Homo sapiens: one gene and its partners. The protein of the gene in region 2 interacts with the protein of the main gene of each other region in a pairwise test. Each region holds a gene or a part of one and is shown on either strand. Other genes may lie near its edges. The genes, in order: FAM200C, REL, GRAP and TLX3.

Evidence for each region.
Region 1: the proteins of REL (region 2) and FAM200C interact in binary tests that used the Homo sapiens proteins (3 or more experiments, as listed by UniProt).
Region 3: the proteins of REL (region 2) and GRAP interact in binary tests that used the Homo sapiens proteins (3 or more experiments, as listed by UniProt).
Region 4: the proteins of REL (region 2) and TLX3 interact in binary tests that used the Homo sapiens proteins (3 or more experiments, as listed by UniProt).

The regions. Positions count from the first base shown.
Region 1 is NC_000005.10:160,397,046-160,404,397, reverse strand, and holds the start of FAM200C (protein FAM200C), read left to right. Parts: upstream 1-4,343; 5' UTR 4,344-4,759; intron 4,760-6,882; exon of another isoform or gene 6,883-6,956; intron 6,957-7,352. Other genes in the region: pre-mRNA-splicing factor SLU7, read left to right, coding at 934-1,113.
Region 2 is NC_000002.12:60,919,574-60,926,573, forward strand, and holds part of REL (proto-oncogene c-Rel), read left to right. Parts: intron 1-467; coding exon 468-536; intron 537-809; coding exon of another isoform or gene 810-905; intron 906-1,000; coding exon 1,001-1,069; intron 1,070-2,189; coding exon 2,190-2,962; 3' UTR 2,963-7,000. UniProt on the Homo sapiens protein: Proto-oncogene that may play a role in differentiation and lymphopoiesis.
Region 3 is NC_000017.11:19,022,952-19,029,983, forward strand, and holds part of GRAP (GRB2-related adapter protein), read right to left. Parts: intron 1,543-7,032; coding exon of another isoform or gene 1,458-1,542; exon of another isoform or gene 1,439-1,457; intron 1,433-1,438; coding exon 1,264-1,432; intron 1-1,263. UniProt on the Homo sapiens protein: Couples signals from receptor and cytoplasmic tyrosine kinases to the Ras signaling pathway. Plays a role in the inner ear and in hearing.
Region 4 is NC_000005.10:171,304,704-171,312,265, reverse strand, and holds TLX3 (T-cell leukemia homeobox protein 3), read right to left. Parts: upstream 3,019-7,562; 5' UTR 2,901-3,018; coding exon 2,480-2,900; intron 2,117-2,479; coding exon 1,873-2,116; intron 878-1,872; coding exon 667-877; 3' UTR 127-666; downstream 1-126.

The DNA of each region.
Region 1 (7,352 bases), on a different chromosome or scaffold from region 2:
ATTCTTTGTTTTTTGGGTTGTTTTTATTTTTTTGAGACAGGGTCTTGCTCTGTTGTCCAGGCTGGAGTGCAGTGGCACGACCGCAGCTCACTGCAAGCTCCACCTCATAGGCTCAAGCAATTCTTCTGCCTCAGTGTCCCAAGTAGCCGGTATTACAGGCACATGCCCCCATGTGCAGCTAATTTCTGTATTTTTTTATAGAGCCAGGATTTCACCATGTTGCCCAGTCTGGTCTCAAACTTCTGAGCTCAGGTGAACTGCCCACCTCATCCTCCCAAAGTGCTGGGATTGCAGGCATGAGCCACCGTTCTTGCCAGTATTATTTGTCAAGGCCTTTATTTGTAATGGCCTGTGATCTAGTCCTGTCTCCAAATGCATTTTTACAATGATGAAACAAGCCTAGAGTCTGAGTGATTTGCTCAAGTTATATTAATGGAGATATTGTGAGGTGTAGGTATTGCCTTCTTCTTGGAGTATTTAGTAATTATGACTAATGGACAGAAGAAATGTGCATTCTAAAGCATTTTAGAGTTATTGGCATGTTGACCGGAAAGAATTGCCTTCTAGCTCCGTAGTTTGTAAGTTTTGGCAAGTCCTTGAGAAAAGTCAGAATTGTAGTCTCTACCAGAAGCATCATTTGTGAGCTTGTATAAGTAAAGTGAACCTCATTTAATTTTTGTTATTAAATAAAATTTCTTCAACATTGATTTAAAATGTTATAGAATGTTTTGTGCTGTATAAAAATATCATATAAGCCAAATAGTGATTAGTTGTAGCTTGACAGTAGAAGGGCTGACTCCAAAGCTCTTTCAGGCAATCTGCGTTTTTGATAGAGCAGTTCATATTCAGTGGGGTGTGTTGGTACTCTGCCACTTTTGAAGAAAAGACATCTGATGTAGAGCTGTGATACACATTTTATTCCTCTCACTATAGGCACTGAACGCAGAGGAGGCCCGCCTTCTTCATGTCAAGGAGACCATGCAGATTGATGAGAGGAAGCGGCCTTACAATAGCATGTATGAAACTCGAGAACCTACTGAAGAGGAAATGGAGGCATATAGAATGAAACGTCAGAGGCCAGATGACCCCATGGCCTCTTTCCTTGGACAGTAGCAACTAGTCAGAAGACCATCCAAGATAGATGCAGCTGATACATTCTTTTCAGCTTCTTATTGATGATTGTAGATAGAAAAATCCTTGTTTATTCTTCTTGCTGCCTGGCTTTAATAAATATTTCAGATGCCTCACAGTAAGTTCACTCCTTTCCATACTGAGGAAACAAGAAAAGAAGAAGAGGCACATGAAGTGTGCTTTTGGGAATAGAATTTAAAATTGGATTAAGATTTTATTTCCAGTTTTTTTTATTTATTTATTTTTTTTTTTGAGACGGAGTCTTGCTCTGTCGCCCAGGCTGAAGTGCGGTGGCGCGATCTCGGCTCACTGCAAGCTCCACCTCCCAGGTTCACGCCATTCTCCTGCCTCAGCCTCCCTAGTAGTTGGGACTACAGGCGCCCGCCACCATGCTCAGCTAATTTTTTGTATTTTTAGTAGAGACGGTTTCATCGTGTTAGCCAGGATGGTCTCGATCTCCTGACCTTGTGATCCACCCGCCTCAGCCTCCCAAAGTGCTGAGATTACAGGCGTGAGCCACCGCGCCTGGCCTATTTCCAGTTTTATGTGAGTCATGTAAAAAAGCCTTGGCTCTCTACCTATTAAGAATGTCTCTTTCTCTGTATTTATTAAGCTTCAAACTTTATTGCTTCGATTTTTGTGGCCCTATATTTAGTATTAGCACACCTTGGTTTTGAGAAAAAAACAGGGCTTTGTTTTTTTAAATAATTACTAGCAACTCTGTGACTACATTTATTTTTATTTTTTTTAGAGACAGGATCTTGCTATGTTGCCCAGGCTAGAGAGCAGTGGCTTTTCACAGACAAAGTCATAATGCCCTGCAGTCTTGGGCTCAAGCGATTCTCTCTTCCTTGGCCTCTGGAGTAGACTAAATGTGTTAGTCTTTGAATGGAAAACAACTATTTTCTCATCATTGGGTCAATATTGACTGATCAGTAGTAGGTCTTTTACCATTCTGGACATAAGTCTAGGTGTAGAAATCCTTTCCTTTATCATAGAGGATATGGTTTACATTACCGTTTGTTTTCATTGTGATTGCCCCTATGTAACAATCATGAATATTAGATTTTTTAAATTGTAGAATATCCTAATATTTATAGCCAGCAGCTGTTACTTTGTTTGTAAAATTTGCAAAAAAACAAAACCTGAAGTTGGTTTATTGAAAGAATTATAAGGATAGCTTCTAGGGATATTAGTAATAGATTGCCATGATCCTGAAGCCTCTTCTCAGAACACTGTGAAGATAATACTGACAGTAGAATCAGTGAAAACAGCCTAACAAAACCTCTGACATCAGTATATCAACTTTTAACAGCCCACTCACTGGCTTTTCTAAACTACCAAAAACCACCTGTAGGATACTGCATTAAGTCAGCATCTCAGAAACAGTGGTGTGAGTAACTGAGTCAAATTGTCAAGTACTTTGGATATACATAGTGTCGAGCTTTAGATTGGTATGAAATTAAACAGCAATGCAAATAGATTTAATTCCTATTTACTTTAAGAATGAAAAACAATGTTCATTTTCCTACCTAAACAGGGTGGTTCAACATAAAGGCTGATGTTGTGTCCGTTTTGTATTTTATCTTTTGTTAAAGATACATAAATGACAATACTTAACTGTGAGTGGTTTGTAGCATTATTTCTAATATTTGGCAGAAAAGTTGTTTATGGGACAGGGAGGGGAACCTGGATTAGCTTCTGTGAGTTTAAGAAAATTTCAGCATCTTGTCACCTAACCTTTCTGGACCTCTTTCCCTCTTCTATGAGGCCTGGTTTACTTAGATTTAGGAAGAATTCTGTAATATCCAGAATCATGTCTTCTGTTTTATTTTGGAAAAGTAATGCCTAGCCAGCCTGGCCAACATAGCAGAGCCCTGTCTCTATGAAAAATACGAAAATTAGCTGGGCATGGTGGCACACGCCTATAATCCCAGCTACTCAGGAGGCTGAGGCATGAGAATTGCTTGAACCCGGTTCAAGAAGTTACAGTGAGCTGAGATTGCGCCACTGCTCTCCAGCCTGGGCAACAGAATGAGACCCTGTCTCAAAAAAAAAAAAAAAAAAAAAAGAAAAAAACATAATGCCTAGGACATTACTCAGATTGAGCTTTGATTTTATTATCTCAATAATAGCTGCCTTTTGAGTGCGAGAATTATGTACTGTAATTGTCATAATGTTATCTCCTTCCTCAAAAGAATTTCATGGGGTAATGGATGATATGTAAGTTTTACAAAAAGCACATGGAATTAACTCCAAGTAACCTGCACAAATCCTAACCGTTGGAGTCAGGACATGAAGCTAGCTGTGGGATTCTGAAGCCTACCCCTTTCTCTAGTATTGAAGGCCCTAATTTCTTGACCAACAAGGCTGGTCTTTAGCAGTTTCTTCCATCCACAAAAAACTTCAGCAGCCCGTCAATATTTACCAGGCTCACCCTTAACACCTGAAAATGATGTATCTGGCCCACATTCGTTGACGCCCCACCACTCCTCACACACACTAGTCTTATGGAATGCTTCTAACAAGATTGTACAAAAATGAGTAAACTCATTAAGTTTATAAGAATTCTGGAAAGACCCCCAAACAGGAAAGGGCTATATTCCGGTTTCTTTCAACAACGTTTCCTAGTTTCTACTTGGGATTTTTCTCTAAAACCTCTCTAATATGGGTTTATTTCTTTGAAATCATGTTGTTGAAAGAATTTAAAATAAAAATATTTCAGATATATGATGATGACATGGAAATTCATCCCTATGCTCCCACTTACGGAAAGTGGGATCAGCTTGCATAGGCAACAGTACACAAGCTATGGAAGCTCATCCTCCACTGCTGAAATGTCTAATCTGAAATTACAATGAGCTTCCTTCTCTTTTTCTCTCATTTATTCCACATGGAACATGGCAATTATCAGGCGTTTTATCTCCAAGCTCAAAGCCCGACACAATATAAAAGTTTAAGTGCTCTGCATGTTAAAAAGAACTATGTGGAGTTTACAGCCCCTTCCATTCCTGAAATTGTACAGTTCATCCTCTCTGGCAGACACAATAAACAAACGATTTCTTGTTCCACGTACACAATCTTAAAAAAAAAATTGGGAAGGGCTAGCGCGCATGCTCAATACTCAAGCCAGCCAGCCCATCCCACAGCCCTTTGCTACTGCGCCTGCGTGTGGGAGACGCCTCTCCCAGTTTGCGGGCGGGAAGCACCCTGGAGAACCCGGATGGAACCCGGGCCTGGCTGAGGCGGAGGTTGTTGCGGATGCTTCTCTCTCCAGGCGCACCGCAGATTCCTGCCCGGGGGTTGGACCCGAGGAACCGCCGTCTCTACTGGTTCCGACGGCCAGAGGCTGGGCCCTAGGCTGAGCGGAGAGTGGGACTGGAGCCTGAAACGGGCGCCTAAAAGAAGCCCGTGCATCCCATAGGCCTGCGCCTCAGGCTTGGAGACGGGCGGGCGGAGACCGCGCTGAGTCTTTTTTTTTTTTTTCCTAGCAGCTGGCGTTCTTATCTCACCCGGGAGGCTGTAAAAATCTCCGTCCTTAACAGTAACACCATCAGGTCCTATCAGTTAAGAGCTGCTTGTTATTTGCATGCATTCTTATAATTAAATCTCCTAACAACCCTGTAAGGTAGGTACTGTTATCCCCTCTGGAGGAACTGAGGCTTGGAAAGGTCCCATCCTGTAAGTGACAAAGCCACGATCCCAGGCGTTTGCCCCTGGAGCGTCTGCCCAGCCACCAAGTTCCTGCCCCCATTCTCCTGGCTATTGATTTTAACTGTAAAATGTAATGGTTAAATGCTCTGCCTCCCCAGACACCTGCGCCTATCATGATCTTGCATACGCAGTGGCTAGAAAGAAGTTGAATTGTATTTGGTTTGGAGTTTTAGGTTTACAGCTGCACTTTGGTGTTTTCACTGCTGGAATATATATATATTAGCATTCCCTAAATATTTGTTTTGTGAGTGTTCACTTTTAACTGATTTTTCTCATTTGTAATACTTTTTCATATCTACCCTTCATAAACTTGCAAAAACATTTTACTTTGTTATATCAGATCTTTCATTAAGCATCTGAAGATAATCTCTCAAAAGAATCATGCTTAAAATGAGTGATATCTATCTTAAGATAATGCTTTTTATCTTTTTATTATGGAAAGTTTCCAAAATACATTAAAATAGAACGGTGTAATGATGTATACCCATCATCCAGCTTCAAGAGTTACCAACTTAAGGCCAGTCATTTCTTTTATCTCCACCCCGCTTTGTGCATGTTTGTGAGTGTGCTGAAGTACGTATTTCAAAGGAATCCCAGACATCTTATTTCACTTGTAAATAATTGTCTGTATCTAACAAATGAGGACTTTTTAAAAACACAACCACAATACCATTATCATGCCTGTTTAACAATATCTCCTTATCATGATGCTTTTTAATGTTTACGTTTTTTAGGATATTGTAATTCCTAAATACCACAAAAGCGCAAGTGCAAATTGTGAGGTTCTAAAACACAAGCCTCTTGGGCAGTAAGTTCATCTTTGAGGCCCTTGAAAATTCTTGCCACCTGTTCTCCCTTTTTGAGGGTTATGGAGAAGAATACTTTAAATTGATTTTCCTAAAACTGTTCAAAACAGATAAATTTTAAATTAAAATATACTTGAGAGACATAGTCAAGGTGGATAGGAATGGACTCTTAACAGATCTTGTAATGATTTCCAGTTTGTTTTGTTTTTGAGACAGAGTCTCACTCCGTCACCCAGTCTGGAGAGCGCAGTGGCATCATCTCGGCTCACTGCAACCTCTGCCTCCCAGATCAAGCGATTCTCCTGCATCAGCCTCTCCAGTAGCTGGGATCACCATGCACAGCTAATTTTTGTATTTTTAGTAGAGACGAGGTTTCGCCAAGTTGGCAGGGCCAGTCTCAAACTCCTGACCTCAGGTGATCCGCCTTCCTCGGCCTCCCAAAGTGCTGGGATTATGGACATGAGCCACCGTACCCAGCCTTTTTTTGAGACAGAGTCTGGCTGTGTCACCCAGGCTGGAGTGCAGTGGCGTGATCTCAGCTCACTGCAATGATCTCAGCTCACAGCAACCTCTGCCCCCTGGGTTCAAGCGATTCTCCTGCCTCAGCCTCCCGAGTAGATGGGACTACAGGCATGCGCCACCACACCCAGCTAATTTTTGTATTTTTAGTAGAGACAGAGTTTCACTATGTTGGCCTGGCTGGTCTGGAACTCCTGACCTCAAGTGATCTGCCCGCCTTGGCTTCCCAAAGTGCTGGGGTAGCAGGCGTGAGCCACCGTGCAGGGCCCCTCTTGTAATGATTTCTAATGTGACTAAAAACATTTTCCTTTATTCCCTCTTCCTCCCCAAATATTACATGATAAATATACATTAATAGAATACAGAAAAATAAGCATTTATGGTAATGTCATAATTTTATCGTCATTAATTAGAAGTGGTTCTAAGCAAAAGTGGTCATGTAGTCTCATTACTTGACAAAAGAAGTCTTAAGATCAGCTCTTTAAACTTCAGGTTGTCTTTTTTGATTGGCAGACATCCTCCAATTTAACAGGCTCATAACAACCTTGTAACAGCTCAGCTTATTTTATTGGAGTACACTTTACAACTAGTTCATCTTGGTAGATCCACTTGAAAGCTAATGCTTTAAGTGGATATTCTTGGCTTGTGATTTTTCTTTTAATGTCCAAAGTGGGCATTCAGATTTAAATGTGTACCTGTTACTTTATTTCAGCCACATTCTCTGGCACAGAACTTTGGAAACTTTGGGGATCACTTACTTATCTTGGAGATAGAATGTTTTCTAAGGTATATTTGAGCCTACCTGTGGATTATGCCTTTACTCGTTGCTAAAGGGAGAGAAAGAGAAAAGATATGGCTTTCATTTTAGGTTTCAACTTTCATAGGAGGCTGTCATCAACTCAGAAAATGTAGAAAATTTAAATATCTATTAAAGCATTGGGACCATTCACTTAGAAACCTAGAATATTTGTTAGCTAAGGATTGGTTTGAAGGATACGTTTTTATTCCCCTAAGCCTGACTACTTAACCAGGTTGTGTTTCAGGACTGCCTGAACAACATTATTTCATATTCTTTTGTTCTGCTTCTGGAGAAGATATGTATTAGTTCTAAGGTAGTGCAGGGACGTGTATATTTTGAAAGGGTTTCCCAGTGATTGTGATGATATGGTGTCTCTTGTCACA
Region 2 (7,000 bases):
CGCCACCACACCCGACTCATTTTGTATTTTTAGTAGAGATGGGGTTTCACCATGTTGGCCAGGCTGGTCTCAAACTCCTGACCTCAGGTGATTCACCCACCTCAGCCTCCCAAAGTGCTGGGATTGCAGGTATGAGCCACTGCGCCTGGCCAATTTTTCTGTTTTTTTATGGAGACAGGGTTTTGTCATGTTGCTTAGGTTGGCCTCAAACTCCTGCGCTCAAGTGATCCACCTGCCTCAGCCTCCCAAAGTGCTGAGATTACTTTAAACAATTTTTTACTAAGAGAAAAATATCCTTTTCTACTGATACTACTGATTTGGGACATATTCTATAATACTTATTAAATCCAACTTACATACATATTTATTGAAAACATTTTCTATATGTGAATAAAATATTTGTTTATTAAAGGAGAGGATACAATCCTATAATTTTTTATCTGCTTTCCTGGTTTCTTTCTAATCAGATACTTACGGCAATAAAGCAAAGAAACAAAAGACAACTCTGCTTTTCCAGAAACTGTGCCAGGATCACGGTAAGAATAGTTTGGATCGATTCATATTTAAATAGGTTTTGTTTTATTTACTTTATTCAGTTTTTCAAATTTTATTATTTTTGTTTTGTTTTGTTGTTTGTTTGTTTTTTGAGATAGCATCTCTCTCTGTCACCCAGGCTGGAGTGCAGTAGGGCAATCTCAACTCACTGCAACCTCTGCCCCCCAGGTTCAACAATTCTCCTGCCTCAGCCTCCCGGGTAGCTGAGATTACAGGCATGTGCCACCACACCCGGCTAATTTTTGTATTTTTAGTAGAAACAGGGTTTCGCCATGTTGACCAGGATGGTCTTGAACTCCTGACATCAGGTGATCCACCCACCTTGGCCTCCCAAAGTGCTGGGATTACAGGTGGGAGCCACCACGCCCGGCCAGTTTTTCAGATTTTAACTGATAATGTTATTTTTCAAATGACATTTAATAATGGAAAAACTTTATCCTAACAGTTAATTTTCCTGAGAGACCAAGACCTGGTCTCCTCGGTTCAATTGGAGAAGGAAGATACTTCAAAAAAGGTATTTTATTTCCTATAGCATATTTCTTGTGATCAGAAAGACCAGTACTTTGCACAATATATTGGAATTCTATTTTTAGGAATGAATAACTGCTTCTTTGAAAATTTTCTCTCCAGATTTTTCATGCTTTCAGTATAGAATGAATTAAGCATGGCTTCTGAAGGTTGTGTTAGAAACTGATTATGTTTTTGGGATTTATTGTTCAAGAAATTACATGTTGTTCATATGGTAGCAATTTTATTAATTACATTGCGTTATGAAAAAATGTTACTGATTTGGTTAGTTACCTGTTTTTATAAATAACATTTTACTGGAACACGGCCATGAATATTTGATTAAATATTATCTCTAAACTGCTTTTTTTTTTTAACACTATGGCAACAGGGTTGAATAGTTCCAACAGAGGCTGTATATAGCTCACAAAGCCTAAAATATTTACAATCTGACTTTTTACAGAAAAAAAAATTGCCAATCCCTAGTTTAGGTAATTCAACCGAGGGCTAATTAGAAGAAGTCTTTTTTCCCCCACGTACATTCTTAAATCATTGCTTTTTCCTGGTTTAGTTTGTAAAGCATTTGTATAATATGTAAATAGATACAGAATTAATTTTTTCTGTAATTTTTTTCTGACTGTGAATTTTATAGTCTCTTAGGGTTCTGTTGTAATATATCTTAAAAGTTATGTGTATTTTCTTATCCCTAATGAGTGTTGTCTCCATCCTTCCATTTTCTCCTAAAAGTGAAGAGTAAGAGATGATTTTGGCTATTTGGAATCCCATTAATTGTAATTCTAATATTTATCTTTTAGTTTTCAAAAATACCTTTATAGAGCCTCAGAAACTAGATTTTCATATTTAATTGAAGTGAAATTACATATGCCAAAGTAACTTGCCAAAATCATTTTACCTGTATTTGTAAAATGGTATATACGTTACAGAATTTCATTTTGGATTCGTGTAATAATTTTAGTGCTTTTTACATTTTTTTATTTGAAATGTTACATTGGTTTCCTTGACATTTTTCTTTATATATATTTGTGTGCTTATGCAATTTTAATTTAGAAATGCTTTTTATAATTTTGTTCATTTTAATTTCGTAAAATAAATTTTTCCTCCCACAGAACCAAACTTGTTTTCTCATGATGCAGTTGTGAGAGAAATGCCTACAGGGGTTTCAAGTCAAGCAGAATCCTACTATCCCTCACCTGGGCCCATCTCAAGTGGATTGTCACATCATGCCTCAATGGCACCTCTGCCTTCTTCAAGCTGGTCATCAGTGGCCCACCCCACCCCACGCTCAGGCAATACAAACCCACTGAGTAGTTTTTCAACAAGGACACTTCCTTCTAATTCGCAAGGTATCCCACCATTCCTGAGAATACCTGTTGGGAATGATTTAAATGCTTCTAATGCTTGCATTTACAACAATGCCGATGACATAGTCGGAATGGAAGCGTCATCCATGCCATCAGCAGATTTATATGGTATTTCTGATCCCAACATGCTGTCTAATTGTTCTGTGAATATGATGACAACCAGCAGTGACAGCATGGGAGAGACTGATAATCCAAGACTTCTGAGCATGAATCTTGAAAACCCCTCATGTAATTCAGTGTTAGACCCAAGAGACTTGAGACAGCTCCATCAGATGTCCTCTTCCAGTATGTCAGCAGGCGCCAATTCCAATACTACTGTTTTTGTTTCACAATCAGATGCATTTGAGGGATCTGACTTCAGTTGTGCAGATAACAGCATGATAAATGAGTCGGGACCATCAAACAGTACTAATCCAAACAGTCATGGTTTTGTTCAAGATAGTCAGTATTCAGGTATTGGCAGTATGCAAAATGAGCAATTGAGTGACTCCTTTCCATATGAATTTTTTCAAGTATAACTTGCAAGATTTAAATCCTTTTAAATCTTGATACCACCTATATAGATGCAGCATTTTGTATTTGTCTAACTGGGGATATAATACTATATTTATACTGTATATATAATACTGACTGAGAATATAATACTGTATTTGAGAATATAAAAAACTTTTTTCAGGGAAGAAGCATACAACTTTGGACATAGCGAATACAAAATTGGAAGCTGTCATAAAAAGACAACTCAGAGGCCAGGCGCAGGGGCTCACACCTGTAATCCTAGCACTTTGGGAGGCCAAGGCGGGTGGATCACTTGAGACCAGGAATTCGAGACCAGCCTGGCCAACATGGTGAAACCCCGTCTCTACTAAAAATACAAAAATTAGCTGAGCATGGTGGTACGTGCCTGTACTGTCAGCTACTTGGGAGGCTGAGGCACAATAATTGTTTGAACCCAGGAAGCAGAGGTTGCAGTGAGCTGAGATCACACCACCGCACTCCAGCCTGGGTGACAGAGTGAGACTCTGTCTCAAAAAAAAAAAAACAAAAAAAACACACTTTTTTATATTTCTTTTTATAATGTTTTAATGTATTCTTAAATTTCAAGCAAATTTAAGATAAAACTTGTAATGGCTATGCCATTGAAAAACTTAATTTTTTATTTTTGAGGCCCATGGGCCAAGGTAACCCCTAAGGGGTTTTCTTAGGCTTCTTGGAGCTTAGATTTGTATGTATATCAAAATGTCTTTAAAATGTTAAGTTGGGCAGAAGGCAGTTGAAGTGAGCTTTCAAGGTATGGGAGGTTTTCTACATTTTATACTATTTCAATCTATGCCTTTAAAGTTGCTTATGATTTTAGCTGTACACTCATTTTTTAAGGGGAAGAAGTTTCCTTGGACCATTCGCCTTTCTTAGATGTCCTCACTCCCTGTGATCTCATAAAACTGCCTATTTGACATCTCTATCTAGAAATCTAATTAAAGCTCACACTCAGCATATCCAAAACTGAATTCTTGGTCTTCCCTCCCAAACTTGCTTCTCCTTCAGTCTTCTCCAACTCAGTAAATGGCAATGCCATACTTCTGGTTGCTCAGGCCAAAAACCCTGAAGTCATCCTTGATTCTTCTTTTAGCACCCATATCCAATCCATTAGCAAATCTGGTAGACCCTACCTTCACAATATATCTAAAGCTGACCACCTCTTTTGACCTCTACTATTAACGCCCTATTCCAAGCCACCATCATCTCTTCCCTGGATTGAAGCTGTCATCTACAAAAATTCTTCTTATATCCTTGCATTCCTACAGTCTGTTCCCCATAAAGTAGCCAGAATGATTATTTTTAAAACAAGTCAACTCATACCATTCATCTGCTCAAAACCATTCATTGGCTTCTCATCTCACTCAGAGCAGTCAAAGTCCTTAAAAGTTGCAGGCCTAGACTCCCTGTCCTACCTCAGGTACCACCATATCCCACCTCCTCATGCAGCTCCAGGCACCTTGGCCTCAGTGCTCCTCAAAGCATCAAGTATGCACTTGCCTTGGACAGTCTGTACTTGGTATTCCCTCTGCCTTGAATGTTGTTCTCCCAGAAAAATGCATAGTTCACTCTTACATCCTTCAGGTGTCACTCCACTGTTACCTGAGCAGGTCGTCCTTGAATATATACATCAGCATTCCCTTTCCCCCCTGCTTTATGTATGTCCATAGCACTCACCACGATCTGACTTTACTAAGTATTTATTCATTTACTGTTTGTTTTCCCATACCGAAATATAAACTTTCTAAGGACAGAAATTTTTGTGCTTTATTGTTGAATCTCCAATTTGTAGAAAAATGCCTACCTTATATTAAACACTCAGTAAATGTTTATTGAACATTAAAAGTATTACTAATAGAACTTTGGTTTTTGAAAGAAATAATAACTTTAATTATAAGACGTATATGATTTTTGCAGTTTTACTTAGTGTGACATTGGGTTTATGAGAATCGTGTACATTCAAGTCCAGGAATAATAATGGTCATCCAAATTGTTTGAAAGGAAAATAATCCCAGTGGCAAAATGATGGTAGAATTTGGGTAATCTTTTTTTTCCTTTTATGAAAAGAGATTTTATTGAAGGTAAAACATTAGAGGTTCATTGAGAATCTCTAAATCCATGTTTTGACATTGTCAAGCTCATTGCAACTTCCAGATTGAGTAACACTTATAACACATTTCCTTTTCAAAGTGCAAGATTTTTAAAAGAGACTTGTCACATATTCATTTGGCTGGTTTCAAATGGTGAGCTGAATGCTGGGTAATCTCTACTAGCTCCTTAATCAGATTTAAAATTCTCAGTGTTTCCTAGTTGTTTCTGCATACTTTATGTGAGTTGTTATAGCTGTAACATTACACTTTATTTGCTGTTTGTGTTTCGTGACTTTTGGTAATTCTGGCATTTAGAAACCTTTCACTTTGCTTCAAAACGTAGTTATATTTTGGAGTTTTCATTTGATATATAATTATTTATTTTGCCCTTTTATTTCCCAAAGACATTGTAAGGGTTAATTAGATCATTATATTTTATTATTACAGATTAAAGTTGGGCAGTAATCTTAATTATGATGGAATTATCATTATGCTAAGTAATTAACTTTACCTAGTTTGTTTTACAACTAGAACCTGCCCTAAATGTTGAATATCTTCCTAGCAAGAAACAGTCTGTCATTTTACTTACACGATGTCTAACCAAACCATAACTTTACATAAACTAGTCGTTTCGGTCAAATAGAAAAATGTGTGAATGCCATAAAAACAAAAATTCTCAGTTAAATGATACTGGGAAATAGGGAAGACAGCAAAGTGAGACTTGGGCTCAGGATGGTTCAGGAAGAAAAAAAAAGAAAGACCCCTGAGTACCATTAATATTCCTCAGAAATTATTATTTCAAAAGGAAATATTTCTGTATTATAAATTTTTCATGAGCAGCCATTATGAAATCTCACAAGAATCATAGAATTCAATAAAAAAGGTAGAAAGTAATTTTTTTACTTAAAAATATAAATTAAAATAAATTTTTAAAATCATAAGCACATAAATAGAACTTACCAGGGAGAAAGAAAAACCTGAAGGCACAATTTCTTTTCTGTTCAAAATGTGAACCCAGGATGTCTCTAGATGATGATGGATGATAGGTGGGGAGATTTTTTTTTTTTTTAATACAGAATCTCATAGTTTTGGATTAATTAGCACCAATCAGTTTAAACACTGACTGTTAGAATAGCTGCATGGGTTTTTTTCTTTAAACTAATTAAGCGTTGGCTACTTAGTATAAGTAAGTATAAGCCGAATTAAGGTTCTGCTACATCTGTGTTTAGAATATTTTTTTAAAACTAAATAAGTGTTGGCTAGTTTTGCGGTGTAAGCAGAATTAAGGTTCTGCTACCTCTGTGTGTAGAATATTCCCAATGGATTTTTCATTTTTCAGGTGCTATTTTTTGACCCTGTATAGACTTTAATTTAAAATGAATTTGGTAACGTTTCTCCTCTGTCTCTACATATATTCATGCTTTCACCTGCTCTTTTAACACCTGCTTTTAGTATCTGAGGCACTTTTTCTGAACTCTACTTGTGCACTGGATCCCTCCTCCTTTCTCTGCCAGGCTGTGTTTACTTTATCCTTACATCACCACTTAGTGATTCCTTTCTTTGTATAAACATGGTAAATGTCTTCATTAGCCTAAAAGGAAAGACCAAATAAAACCTTTCCTACCACTTGGATGCATTTGCATCCTGACTTCTGAAATGCCTCCAGCCTCCATTTTCTCCCTTCCCAGTTATTCCTTAGCCCAGCCATCTCTGTCTTTAGCTCCTACAATTTTCTTAGGATATTCTGGGAAAGATGAGCGGAGACTGCCCGCCTTGTCAAATCTAGTGTCTTTTTTTCAGTCCTCACACTGCTTGACCTATGTATAACCTCCTATACTTCCCTCTTTGCATACTCCTCTGGGTTTTCTGTGGTAGTCAAGATTCCTCCCTGAGATTTATTTCCCATGAGTCTTGACCCCTCCCCTCAGTTGG
Region 3 (7,032 bases), on a different chromosome or scaffold from region 2:
AGGGTGGGTGACCCCACGGCCCGGGCCAGAGCGAGGTGTTGGGTGTAGGGGAGCTCTCAGTTGCCCCTGCCCTAGCTCCATCCTGGCTTCCTCACACTCTTCCAAGGCAGAGCTGGCCCAGGTGGTGAACAGGGAGGAGGATGGAGATCTGGCAGACAGGAGCCCAGCTGGAGAGAAAAGTGCCCTGAGGCTGGGAGCTCACAGTGACCTGGGCACTCAGGGTCAGGCAGGGAAGGCCAACAGAGGAGAAACTAGTGGGGGTCTCTCAAGGCACTGTTTGACTCCCCTGGCATATCAGACCCCAGGGCTCATCCTACTGAACAGAGGGAACACTGAGGGGATGAACTGGCCTCTGATCACATGGAAAGGTGGTGGGGAGGTGCTAGGAACAAGATTTGGCTGGAGCTTCTCTTCAGCGGTTATCAGCCTCTCCCCAGGCCTTGGCCACACTCCCCATCTCCTCTGCAGAGCCCAAGCTCAAGTGTCCCAGGGTCTTGACCTCCAGCCCCAGGCCTTGCCAGCATCCCCGCTCCTGAAGAAAACAGCCTGTTGGGGCTAATAACCCCAGTGGCTATTGTTGGCATCCCAATCAGCTTCAGAGCTGGCCCTTGGGGCTCCTTGATGAAAGGGCTGGCTGGCAAATTGCTGTTATTGCAAGGTCAAGGGGTGGATGACCCCGACCCCCCACCCCCCACCCCCCACCCCGCGGCTTGCCAGGATCTCGCCCACCAGCACTCATGCTGCCCCACACCCAAGGTCAACTCTTCCGCGAGCAGAAACCAGGACTGAGCCTACCAGGTAAGTGTCCTTGGATGAGTCACTGCACTCTCTGAGCCTCGGTTTCCTCATCTGTATAATGGGCATGATGAGGCTCCCAGAGTACAGAGACCAGTTCAGTGCATGGTACCCAGTATGCTCAGTGGGGGTCTGTACCTTCCTTCACTCAATGAACATTTATTGAGCACCTACTGTGTGCCACATGCTATTCTAGGAGCTGAGAACAAGCTAGACAGTTTGTCCCCATGGGATTTTCCTTCTGTCCTTTGCTTTTCTTTCCCTCTTCTCCTTTCCCACCCTTGCAAGTCTCACCATAGCCGCCACCAGGATATAACTTCGAAGCCTGGGCTGGACGCCTCTTGCAATACCAGGCTGCTGGGGAAGTGAGACCAGGCCCGTGCTTGGCCTCAGTGTCAGCATCTCCCCTGCTGCAGATGGCAGGAGGTGCAGAGAGGCTCCCACAGGCCAGCCCCCACCCGCCCCTACCTTGAGCAAGGGCTCCTCGTCGCGCAGGAAGATCTGCCGCTTCTTGGCGATGGTGGTGGTGCGGTAGAAGTCGACCAGCTCGTTGAGGGAGTTGAACTTCTCCTCCCACAGGAAGTACTTCCCCGAGGCCTCACGCAGCACCTTGAAGTGCTGCACCTGGTCTCCATAGCTAGGGGAAAGGACCCGGGGCCACCTCAGGTGGTGGCCGTCCCAGCCTGGCATGGTCCCAGGGGCTCCCGTCTCACTACCACCTGGAACCAGCCTGTCTCACGGTGGGACCTGGAGTCAGATAAGGTGCAAGTGGGAGAGGCCCCACTGACCCAGCTCCACATGGGGTCTGGGGAGTCCCATCTGGCAGTGGAATATGGGGTTAATTTAAGGGTGTGGGCTCTGAACCAGGCCACTTTCTCACTGTGTGACCTCATGCAAGTCTCTCAACTTCTCTGAACCTCAGTTTTCTCATAATGATAACATCTCCGTTATGGATAAGTGCACAGTGACTGGCATATTGGCAACGTGAAATGGGTACCTCTGAGTGTGTCGTGATCAGAGAGCATCTCCTTCACATCTCTTTGTTGTTCCCCTCAGCTTGGACCTACTCCCTGCTCCCCTGCTCCTCCCATGCCCCAGAGTCCCTTGGGGAGCAAGTCCTAGACTCATCCTGACTCAGACCAAAGCCTACTGCTATGAGAGGAGCTCAGACCTGTTGAATGTCTCACGTCCTCCCCCTCCCATGAACCTTCCGTGGCTTCTCCCTTGGCCTCAGGGTAAACTCTTAACACTTCAGACTCAAGATCTGGCTCCACTTACATGTCCAGCTTCATTTACTTTATATCCTCTCCGATGAAGCAAGCAGGCCCCTTTCTCTCATTTCCCGTCTGTGCCCTGCCTTCCAGCCAGCCCACTACCGCCAAATCGCCCCGAGTACCTTCTAGCCCAGCGGAGGAGAGAGCCTGCTCTTTCTTTTTTCTTTTCTTTTCTTTTTTTTTTTTTTTGAGGCGGAGTCTCGCTCTGTCACCCAGGCTAGAGTGCAATGGCGCTATCTCGGCTCACTGCAAGCTCCGCCTCCCAGGTTCATGCCATTCTCCTGCCTCAGCCTCCTGAGTAGCTGGGATTACAGGTGCCCGCCACCACGCCCGGCTAATTTTTTGGTATTTTTAGTAGAGACGGGGTTTCACCATCTTGGCCAGGATGGTCTCAAACTCCTGACCTTGTGATCCACCCTCCTCGGCCTCCCAAAGTGCTGGGATTATAGGCGTGAGCCACTGCGCCCAGCCACGGATTTTTCTCTCTCATTTCCCGTCTGTGCCCAGCCTTCCAGCCAGCCCACTATCGCCAAATCGCCCCAAGTACCTTCTAGCCCAGCGGAGGAGAGAGCCTGCTCTTTCTTTTTTCTTTTCTTTTTTTTTTTTTTTTGAGGCGTAGTCTCGCTCTGTCACCCAGGCTAGAGTGCAATGGCGCTATCTCGGCTCACTGCAAGCTCCGCCTCCCAGGTTCACGCCATTCTCCTGCCTCAGCCTCCCGAGTAGCTGGGACTACAGGCGCCCACCACCGCGCCCGGCTAATTTTTTTTGTATTTTTAGTAGAGACGGGGTTTCACCGTGTTAGCCAGGATGGTCTCGAACTCCTGACCTCGTGATCCACCCGCCTCAGCCTCCCAAAGTGCTGGGATTACAGGCGTGAGCCACCGCACCCAGCCGAGCCTGCTCTTTCAAACTGGCCAGAGGCAGAGCCTGTCCTGGCTGGGACTGGGCAGAGGAACTAACTGGAACCTCTCACACTCGGCGTGTCCACCCAGGACAGGCCTTGTGGGGCTGGGACTGGAGGCGGTGCAGCTGTGGGTCAAGATCATGGCAGACATGACTGCAGCGCTGCCCCGCTGTGCTTCGGGGGTGGCTGGCCTGCCTCACGGCCCAGGAGGAGCAAATTGGGCCCTATGTTTCAGTTTCTCCACCAGTCATCCCTGGGGCAGCTTGCTGCTTTATTGATGTTTTAAGATGAAAGATTTCAGATAAAGATGTGTTCAAGGCCGGGCGCGGTGGCTCATGCCTGTAATTCCAGCACTTTGGGAGGCCGAGGCGGGCGGATCAAGAGGTCAGGAGATCGAGACCATCCTGGCTAAACCCCATCTCTACTAAAAAACAAAAAAAAATTAGCCAGACGTGGTGGCGGGTGCCTGTAGTCCCAGCTACTCCAGAGGCTGAGGCGGGAGAATGGCATGAACCCAGGAGGTGGAGGTTGCAGTGAGCCAAAATCGCGCCACTGCACTCCAGCCTGGGCGACAGAGCAAGACTCTGTCTCTAAAAAAAAAAAAAAGATGTGTTCAAGGTTCCCACCCTCTGATCTGTATGAGGCATAGGGCAAAACAGGATTCCCCCTACTCCATTCCAGTCAAGGGGTCCAAACCACTTCTAAACACACCTCCAGGCATTTGCACACAGAGTGTCCTCCAGCTAGAGGGAATTTTTCTTGAAATCCTCATGCCCCAGTGGGGAAACTGAGGCCCCGAGTGCAGCCGCGACCTGCCCAGAGCCACAACAGCAAGAAAGGTCAGAGCTGGGGCCACATTTGAGCTCATACATGTAAAACGTTGCCTAATGCCCTCCTGATTGGTTATTATCACATAACAATAGCAATAATAATTATTCCAATTATGCTATTACTATTGTTCCAGAGCTCATCATTCCAAGTCCATTTCTACTTTGCCATGTTGCTACCTGGGCTGTGCCCCCCAGGAGGCCCTCCCTCCCTGCCTCATCCTCTCTGCCTGGCCAAACCTTAGCTACCCTTCCCAGCTCTATAGCCAGCCTGCCTGGACTTAGACCCCAGCCCACCTCTCTGGGCCTCTGCGTCCTGGCCTGCCAAATGTGGGCGATAGTGCACTCCTTGCAAGGGAGCTGAGAGGCCTGGGACCCTGGGGGCTGTGTGGGTGCTGCCAACAGAGCCACCCTAGGCCCACCTGGCTGGGCTAGGGGCTGTGGGGAGAACACAGAACAGTCCCAGCTCCCAACCAGAAAGAAGACAGTTTAGGACCCCGAGGGAGGGCACCTGTTCAGGTGGCTGGCGGAGCTAATAGCTGGGAAAGCCTGGGGCCCTGTGAGCCGGGTGAGGCAGGGTAGGGGCACAGGATGGCCACTGGGAGGTAGATAGCCCCTCAGCCTCCTGAGCCACAGGCTAGGGATCTTTTTGTTCACATTTGGGCTAAATGAGATCCAACCACCAGTCCAAAGCACTTGATGCCTTGATGGGACACATGCGCGCGCGCGCGCGCACACACACACACACACACACACACACACACACACACACACCCCTACCTCTCCTGGGTTGTAAATTGAAATCTGGTTAAACAATTTGGTCGCAATACATTTGCAAGCTTGGGTTCACCCACAGCCTGAGTTCCTTCAGGTCTATGGTTCTCCTGAACAAGAGGGTGGTGTCTGTCACCCCAGCTGCCCAGATCTGCTGCTCCATCTGTCCTATCCCTGCCTGTGGTTGAGTTTCTCCACCAGTCATCCCTGGGGTGGCTTCCTTCCTTATTGATGTTTTAAGATGAAAGATTTAAGATAAAGATGTGTTCAAGTTTCCCACCCTCTGGTCTGTATGAGGCGTAGGGCAAAATGGGATTCCCCCTACTCCATTACAGTCAAGGGGTCCAAACCACTTCTCCCTTTTTTTTTTTTTTGAGACGGAGTCTCGCCCTGTCACCCAGGCTGGAGTGCAATGGTGCGATCTCGGTTCACTGCAGCCTCCGCCTCCTGGGTTCAAGCGATTATCTCATCTAAGCCTTCCGAGTAGCTGGGATTACAGGCACCTGCCACAACGCCTAGCTAATTTTTGTATTTTTAGTAGCTGGGATTACAGGCACCTGCCACAACGCCTAGCTAATTTTTGTATTTTTAGTAGAGACAGGGTTTCACCATGTTGGCCTGGCTGGTCTCAAACTCCTGACCTTGGGTGATCTGCCCACCTCGGCCTCCCAAAGTGCTGGGATTACAGGTGTGAGCAACGGCGCCCAGCCCCAAACCACTTCTAAATACACCTCCAGGCATTTGCACACAGTATTTCCTCCAACTGGAAGGAATTTTTCTTGAACTCCTACTCATGCCTCAAGGCCCAGGTAAAATGGCGCATCCTGTGAGAGCTGCATCAGACCCCATCACGCAGTCAGGGCCTTCTTGGATCCCTCAGCCCCTCTCATAGCCTTCTTGTAACTTGCTACTCAAAATGACTTGCATATGAGACACTAAAAAGGCAGGGAGGCAGGAGTGGGCCCTGAAGGTCCAGTCTAGCTGGGACTCAGCAAACAGAGCATCACTTTCCAGGTCTTAGGTCCTCATTGCGATGCTTTGTTCTTGAAACCCACTTCTGTTGGTTCTGAACTGGGATTGCAGCCCACCAGGTGTTCTGACCCTGAACCCAGGCTCCGGTGGCCAACCCATTGCTCTAAGATGCATCCAGCCCTCAGGGTCACACAGCCAGAAAGAGAGCTAGTTCATGTGCTCGTGACGCGGAGGTGGGTGTGCAGGCAGATGTGTGTCTCCTGCCCTGTCTGGCCTTCCGAAGCCTCCCAGAGGCTTCCGAGAGGCAGCCTCTGAGCCCCATGACTCCCTAGTGCCACGTGCTAACCAGCCCAGGGTTTACTGAACTTTGGCCGTGGTGCCTGGGGAGGAGCACTGCTTCAAGCAGTGGAGTGACGGTGACCCACAGCTGGGCAGGCGAGAAGCCTGGAGACAGGGATCCCAGTGGCTCCACCTCTGGGGCACCGGGTACCCAGGCAGAAGGCCCTGACTCCCTGTTGGCCCCGAGGAGGGGCCTGCATACAGGTGGCCCCACTCCTCTGGGTGAGGGGACAGAAAGGGTGTGGTGGGTTTGAAAATGATTTCAAACCCAAACGACCACAACTTTGAATTTTATGGTATTTGAAGTTCATCTTTAGATACTTGGAAAGTTATCTAGAGCAGATAGAACGTTATCTGGAGCAGTTCTTTGATCATATAGTAGAGTCAGGGAGTGGAGAACAGGAGATAAGGGAAAGGGAGCCAGGGACCCAGGGATTCTAGGGCTTTCCAACCTGGGAACTGGAGAATTCTCAAATCTGGGAAACGTGCATGTGCCAGCCCCTACCTAGTCTGTGTGTGGCACATACTAGGTGCTCAGTAAATGGCAAATCTTGCCCCTTCTCCCACCTGGTCCAAATGTCCTGCTTTACAGCAGAGGACAGTGAGGCTTGGGTGCAGCCCCTCCTGCTGAGCCAGCCCCTGCCTGAGGCCAAGCGGTGCTGTCTCTGTCATCTCACAGCCCAGCATCCCAGCTGTCACTCCCTCTCCCAGCCTGGCCCTTTTCCCTAGCCTGGCTGGGCTCTTGCTCATGGCCCTCACCAGAAATAATGCCTTTTCCCTTTTCTCTGTCTAGTCTTGACCTTAGCCATCCTTCAAGGCCCAGGTGGAGCCTCAAAGCATTTGAGAATCCCCCAGACTGGGGCTACCCTCTGGGGCCTCTCCAGACCTCATCTCCACTCCCCTTCCCAAGGCCTGTGGGAACTTCAGGGCTTGCAGGAGGAACTGAATCTGAGTCCAGATGGCCCCGGAACCGGGAGGGCTGGATCCAGTGCAGCCGGCTCTGCTGCATGAGCCTCCCAGAGCCAGAGGAGGGAGGGGGCACTGGGATTGTGGGCCTGAGTTGGTGAGAGGAGAGGCTGCTGGAGCCATTCACTTCAGTGGGCAGTGCCGGGGGTGTGAGAGCGTCTCCATTGTGTCTGAGTGTGCA
Region 4 (7,562 bases), on a different chromosome or scaffold from region 2:
GCAGACGAACGTTGCGGAAGTGGACGCGCCCTGCGCGCCGCCGCTCGGCTTCTACCGCCGCAGGGGTGGGGCGCAGGGCCGGGGGTCGCCGAGCATTATTGGAACGAAAACGAAATAAAAGCGGCGTTAAGTGAAATAGCTAACTTTTTTATTAAATAAAAAGACTTAAATAAAAGGAACGGAAAAGAAGAAGAGTGGACCCAGCCTAAACGCAGGGTGCCCCGGGCCCCTGGCACTTCCCCCAGCGGCCGGGTCGGCTGCCCTTCCTCCAGCGGCCCCCGCGGGGGAAGCAGGTGGCCGGTTTCTAAAGAAAAAAGCCAAAACTTTTTTATTATTTACACGTTTGGGCAAAAGTACAAAGTATAATACAGGCGCCCGGCCCGGGGGGTGCGGGCGGGGGGCGGAGAAACGTAAGGCGCTTTCTTGTCAGGCCCGGGCCTGGGGCGGGACGGGGCGCGGGGCGGGGGCTCGGATTGTGCGGCCGCGCGGAGCTCGGGCCCTACCCCCTTCCGCGGCCCGCCAGTCTGTGGCCGCGCCCTGGGGCCTACTCGGGCTAGGCGGCCCCTTCCCCTCTCGGCGCCGGTTCCCCCGCAGCCCGCCTGGGGGGTCCGGGGCGCCCGGCTGGGTGGGGGCGGCGATCCGTGGCGACGGTGCGCGCTGGTGGGCTCACACCAGGGAGGTGACAGCGGGAACCTTGGAACTATCCTCCTCCCAGGGCTGCAGATTCTGCAGAGCAAAGAGTGACGAGTTGTGCAGACAGAGCGGGTCAGGCTGGATGGAGTCGTTGAGGCTCTTTTGGAAGGCGTCGTGTTGCAGCTGCAGCATGAGCCGGCTCGCCTGCTGCCGCTCCGCCTCCCGCTCCTCCGCCGTCTGCCGCCTGCACCGGGGGAGGGAGAGGGACAGTACCGTCATGCACCCGGCACCGCGGGGCCGCCGGCGGGGCCCCGGCCCTCCCGGGAGCCGAGGCCATCCGGGAGCCTCGAGGCGCAGAACCCGTCTGCCTCCCAGCCCGCGCTTTACGCCCGAGGCTCTTATATCCAGGGAGCCGGTTAGGATCATTTGTTTTTGTTGTGTGCCAGAGGGTCTCCAGGAGGGGACTCTGCCCGCCGCCCACCTGCACGCCCGGGTATTGTGGCTTCACCAACAATAAAGATTGTTCCTTTCGCCAGATAGCAAGGGCAGGGCCTATGTGTAACTGACTTGGCCCTGCGGGAACCGGGGTCGCTGGGGTCCGCGGGTGAGCAGGCTGGCTCTGCACCACCCGCACGACGCCCGGGGGCTGGGTCAGTCTCATCCAGTTCGCCCAGGGCCTGTCTTGAACCCCTTTCCAGACGCGATCGCTTCGCCGTTTACGGGTTGAATCAAAACAGAGATCGGATAAAAACGCGGCTGGAATGGAGACGCGGAGATGGGGGGAGAGGAAACCGGCGTCCACGAGGATTGTTGAAAATCCGAGAGGGCGGGCTGGAAGAAGGAGGAGAAGGAGAGTGCGAGAGGCCCGTGTGTGTGCGCGTGTGTGTGTGTGTGTGTGTGCCTGTGTGTTTGGGGCGGGGGTGGGTGAGAGGAAATCAAGTGAACGCAGGAGACCGTACAAAACACGGGGAGAGAGTTGGAGGGGCTCACGAAAGATGGGGATGGGGATGGAGGAGAAACCAAGGCGTGGGAGACCACGATGGAGAGAGAAGCACAGGCCAGCGAGAAGGGTGAAAGGAAGAGGTACAATCTGCGAAGGCGGGGTGGGGGTGTGTTTGGGGGAGGCAGAGGGGGGCGGGGGTAGTGGATAGCCTTAAAATAGGGCTAGTGCGAGGCTGCGGCTCGGGGCGGGACAGGTGAAGGGCAGGTGTAAGGTGGGCCGGGTCAGGCCTCTCTCACCGCCACTTGGTCCTCCGGTTTTGGAACCAGGTCTTGACCTGCGCGTCCGTCATTTTGAGGGACTTGGCGAGCGCCGCCCTCTCGGCAGAGGCCAGGTACTTCTGGCGATGGAAGCGCTTTTCCAGCTCGCAGATCTGCACCCGGGAAAAGGACGTGCGCGGCTTCTTACGCTTGGGCGGCGTCCGGTTCTGGTAGGGGTGGCCGATGCGCCGGGTCACGGTGAAGGGCGTGAGTGCGGCCGCCGCTGCGGAGACACAGGAGGGCCCCTGAAGCCCAGCCCGGCTCCGCCACCGTTCAGGCCCCATGCGGACCCCGTGGCGCCCCGTGGGACACGGAGAGCTCCGCTATTTCGCTGGTCGCGCGCGTTTCCAGAGACACCAAGCCGGTCGGGAGACCCCCTCGCCCCCTGTCCCTTCCCCCGGGCACGGGCTTATTTTCCTGCAACTCTCCGATTACCCTCCCCACCACGGCTGCCCGGGGCCCTGGGGCCGAGGCCTCCGCCGCGCTTGGGCCTCTGAAATGGTTTCCGGGAGTGGAGCGCACAGGGCGCGGCGCCTCTGGCCCCGAGAGGGCGGAGGCCTGGAGCCTGGTCGCCAGCTCTGCTCACCTGTGAAGCGGTCTTTCACGAAGCGGCGGCTGCTCTCCATCCAGGGGAAATTGAGACCGCCAAGGCTGGAGACCGTGGGCACGGAGGGCATGGCGGGTAGCGCGCTTGGCAGAGGCGGTGGCACGGCCCCGGGCAGCGGCCTGTGCGCCGGCACCCGGATCACGCCTGCGGGCGCTAGGCTCAGGTTCACACTGTAAGATCCCGCGTCCTCGAAGGGCGCGCCGAGGCCCGCAAAGGAGGCGGGCAGAGACGGGTATGTGGCGCCCGGACGGCCCCCGGGGGGCCCTCCCAGGTAGCTGGCGCCGTCGGGGCCCCGCGGGGCGGGTGCGCTGTCCTGGTCCGGGCTGTTAAGGATCTGGTCGATGCCGAAGCTGATGGGCTCGTGCGGGTGCGGGGTCTGCGCGCTGGCGGGCGCCTCCATCCTGGGCGGGCGGAAGGGCTGGGCTGGGCTGGGCGGGGAGGCGGCTGGGTCCCCGTTACGGCGCGGCCATGGAGCGCCCGGCGCCTCTCGTCGCACTGAAACTTTGCCAAGAGTGCGCGGGCCCGACAGGCTCTGTGTCATCTTTCTTGAACCGAACCTGGAGTTTCCGCTGCTAATTCCTCTCCTGCCGCAGCCATTGGCTGCGATCAACAAGCCTCTCTCCTCTCATTGGCTCCCGGCTTTCAATAAAGGCCTAATTCATGGAAATAGGAGCTTAGGGACTGTTCCAAGGTGACATCATTTTAACAAACGAACAATAGGTCAAATTTATTAGCAGGGATAATGGGCGGCGGATATTAGAGCCCGAACCACAGCCTCCCAAACCCGAAATCTAACGAAGCTGCAATTAGCAGACGCTCCCCGCTCCTCCGGGCCGGGCCGCTTCCCAGACACCGCGCTGGGTGGGTAGAGCGCTCCGCTTGTGAAATTGTCTTTTGCTGAGTGGGTTTTCGTTTTCTTCCAATTTTTTTTTTTTTTCATCTGAGCAAAAGCCAAACCAAATGCATCCTTTCAGGTACAATGGAGTTGCAACCCCGGGACGACCCGGCGGAATCCGCAGAAGCCCCTTGGACGCTACCGCCGCCGGAGGAACGAAAGGGGCGCACTACCCGGGGCAGGCTTCGCGCTGCCTGCGCGCGGGGCGAGGGGAGCACCGTAGCGTTCTCCGCGCCCCGGATGACGCCGACCCGCGTGGGGAGAATTCGCCCCCGCCCGGGTTTCGGCCGCGGCCTCGCGGCCACTTTGGAGACACTCCCTGGCTCCGGCCAGGCGGACCGAGGCGTGACTCGCAGGTGCCCACGCGTGCCAGCTGCGGCTGGGCTAGGGACGCGGGGTCGCCCGGTGGGGAGCGGGGACCTGACTCTCGTAATTCGTTGCAGGATGGAAGGGGGCTGTGGTCGCGCGTGGGAACCCGCTCGCGGCTCGGCGGGTCTAGGGACTTCGGGTTCCTGAATGTCAAAGGCGCGGGCAGCTCCTAGAGCAAATTGCGGGATTTCTTTGGGAAACGCGACTGGTGAGCCCTTCCCGGCTCCAGTCCACTTTGGGCGCTGGAACCACTCCCCGTTCTGCTCGCGCCTCAGTGACTGTCTACCCGGCCCAGGGCACCGTGGACAGGACCGCACACGAAGTAGTCACCTTCCGCTGCAGCTTTGGGGAGACAAGCGGAATCATTTTCTTCCAGCGAATTCTAAAATCGTTAGGTGCAAACTCTTTGAGTGTCGCACCCCTGGCCTGGGTTCTTCCTCCCGCTCCTTGTGGTGTGGACAGTGGTGAGAGCTCGGATGTGCTGTTGTTGGCCAGAAGTGTGTTCAAATTTGGACTGGCCATTTCCTCGCTGAGTGACCTTGAGAAATTGACTCTATATATTTAGATTTCGGTTTTCTCGTTTGCAAAAAAGGAAAATAATGCATGCATGCGGGTTGTTCGTGAGCCGCGAGTGAGATATTGAGGGAGCGCAGAGCACTGGGCCTGGCACGTAGTAGGCACTGGGCAGCGTGGCTCACCTCCCACTCTATCCCCCCAGAGTAATGGCTGATGTATTATTGTTGTGACTCTTGTTTATTTTGTTGGCAGTTTAATTTTATTTGCAGGGGCTCAGTACGTTGGAGAGAAAGGTGTATTTGTCTACCAGTAGGGTCAGTTTCAGAGGACGGGGAAAGACAGGAGGTGCAGGTTGGGGATTCTTTCTCTCTTCTCCCAACAATCCAAAGGCGTCAGGATTTGCAGGGCCTCCAGGCCTGGGTCTGGAGTTAGGTCACTTGCCCGCTGTGTGACCTTGGGCAAATTCCTGGCCCTTGCTAAGCCTTCCTGGTGGGTGTGGAGAGGGAGGCCCAACAGTGAGGAGTGAGAGCTGCAGGATGTCTGGGGTCTGGGCAAGTGCTCCCTCACTCCCTTCCAGCGACAACGACCCTCAGATGGGGTAGATGCCATTGCCCTGGCTCCAGGGGGCCTCCTGCTTCTAATTCAGGCTCTGCCACTGGCAGTGTGGGTCCCTAACCGCCCCTCCCAGAACCGCATTTTCCTTATTTGTAAAACAAAAAGGGCACCAGCTACCCCCAGGGTGGCTGTGAGAACAAAATGAGATAACATCTGTGGCAGTGCCTGTGTGAAACTCTGGCGGTTATATCATAATAACTTTAATGACAACTATAAAGCTACTGTAGCTGAGACCCTAGCCTGTGCCAGGCAGGGAGGTGGACACTTATTTATTCTTCACAATGACCCTGTGAGGAAAGGGCTGTTAGTGGCCCCAATTTCTCACTAATGAGGGAATTGAGGCTTTGAGAGTTCAAGGGAAGCACAGCTCCCCACTTGGGGGCTGGAGTTGGCACCTCACCAGCTCCACTTCCCTTCTGGCTTCCAGTGCCCGGGACTCAGGGCTGCCCTTGTCACTTCAGACACTGTTAAATCAGGACAACAAGGCCCACCGCACAGAGGTTTGTGGCACAGAATTAAGGCGTGGGTGGCACAGCGCTGCTCCCAGCTTGTGTGCTTAAGAATGGGATTCCCACCTCAGTTTACCAGCTGTGGACTCAGGGAATTATTCATCCTCTTTATGCCTCAGTTTTCTCATCTGGTAAATAAACCTCATGGGATTAAATAAGCGCCCCAGGTAAAGCCTGGCACGGGTCAGGGCTCTGCTTCACTGCTTGGCTTCCGGCTTCCTGAGATCCACGGTCCCTCATCGTCCAGCCCTGTCATACAGATGAAGGAGCTTTGGGCCACTAATTATAAGCCTCCTTTCACTTCCTATCCAGATAGCTCTTAGGCAGCTCAGGAATGGGGGGAACTTGGTTAGTCCCTAGGACAGTGGTTCTCAGAGTGTGTTTCCAGAGCAGCAGCATCAGCATCACTGGAGAATTTGTTAGAAATGCAAATTATTGGACCCTCGCCAGACCTACGGCATCAGACACTCTGGGGTAGGACTCGGCAGTCTGTGCTTAACAAGCCCTCCAGGTGATTCTGATGCCTGCTCAACTCTGGAAGCCAGTGCCCAGAATATGGTCCATTCCATCTGAGTTTTCAAATGTGTTGTTGTAACATTGTGGGAAGATTCTCTCAGAATTTGCAACTCTCATACGAATCTGTACTAATGCCTTCCACTTCTCATTCCCCGTGTCGCTCATTCATGCCTTCTCCTGATCATACTTGCCAAAGGTTTGTTATTTTGTTGGTTTTTAAAAAAGCCTTTGATGTCATTATCCCCTTTTAAGATGCCACCTCTTTCGTGAATGTTGCGGTTTAAAAAAAGATTTATTCCTTCTTTGCTGAGTTGAAAATTTAATTTGTCAATTTTCTTTCTTTTTAAATAAATGCACTCAAGGGCATACGTTTTCCTCTAAGCACTGTTTTGGCCAGGTATGTTCTGATATGTATTTGGTGTTCCTGAGGTTGTAATTTCTTGCTGCCCTTGTAATTTACCTGCTGTCACTTGATCAGTGAGGCATACACACTGAAAGAGATTAGGAAATGAGAATTGTAAGAACTGGGGATGAGGATTCCCGGGGCTAGAGAGACTTTCAGAATGGAGCACATCCTCTCCTCTTCCCCAAGAAGAAGCTGGAAGAAAGGGGTACAGCTGGTGGAGGCTTTGCCGAGAGTCATCTAGAAGAGGGTGGGGCTTCAGGGATGACAGGCAAGATGCTGGGATTTCCAGCTGGCCCATGAGCCCAGCTGTGGGAGGCCAGGTTCCTCCAGGATCATTCTGCCATTGACTTCCTGAGGGAAATGAGACTCCATTTCCCTGTCTGTGAAATGGGGTAGAGACTGAATCAGGACTTTAAATGTATTTGGGTCAGCTACCCTATTTGAAACACGGATGAAAATATTGTGGTCTGCTTCCATAGAAAAAGACAGAAACACATAATTTGGCACACACACCATGTCACAGGTTGCTGACCTGCCATGCTGTTCTTGGCTTACACACCCTAGTTAGGAGTCCCTAGGGGCCCTTCCAGTTTTCCTGATGGGAGGCTCTAAAGACACTTGCCGAAATTTATTCGCCCATTCATTTATTTATTCAACGAATATTTACTGAGCACCTACTCACATTTCCTGGACCATTCCCCAGTGCAGGGGCTTGCTTTCCCCATCTAACAGTGGGCACAAAGCAGTCTGAGCTCTTCATCACTGCTTCCCCCAGTGGGCAGGACCTAGGGAAGAACCTTCCTGAGGAGGTCTGATCAGTCTCAAGACTCTGCCAGCCAGTGGAAGGAAAAGGCCTTCAGATGTCGGCTGTTGCTTGGGACCCCCCACTGCAGGTCACGAGGCTTCAAGGACAGTTGACTTAGGGAAACAGTCTCTTGTCCAAGGGCATGTAGTAGACAGGGGTGGAGCTGGGATTTGAACCCAGGACTGTTTAGACTACAAAGCCCACATATTCCCCTTTACCTCACACCCCTCTTTGGGGGTAGGTGGTAAAGACTCTTAAGTCACAGGACTGAGTGGGGAGGGGAAGCAGTGCAGGGTCCGGGTGAATGAGCCCAAGAGTGGCGGTGAGGGCTGGCCATAGTGGGGCTCACTTGTCTCCCCTACTGGCTTGGGAGTTCCTTTTGGGCAAAATGCTGTTAGTGGCATTTGATCCCATGTCCCAGGGCTGGGTCC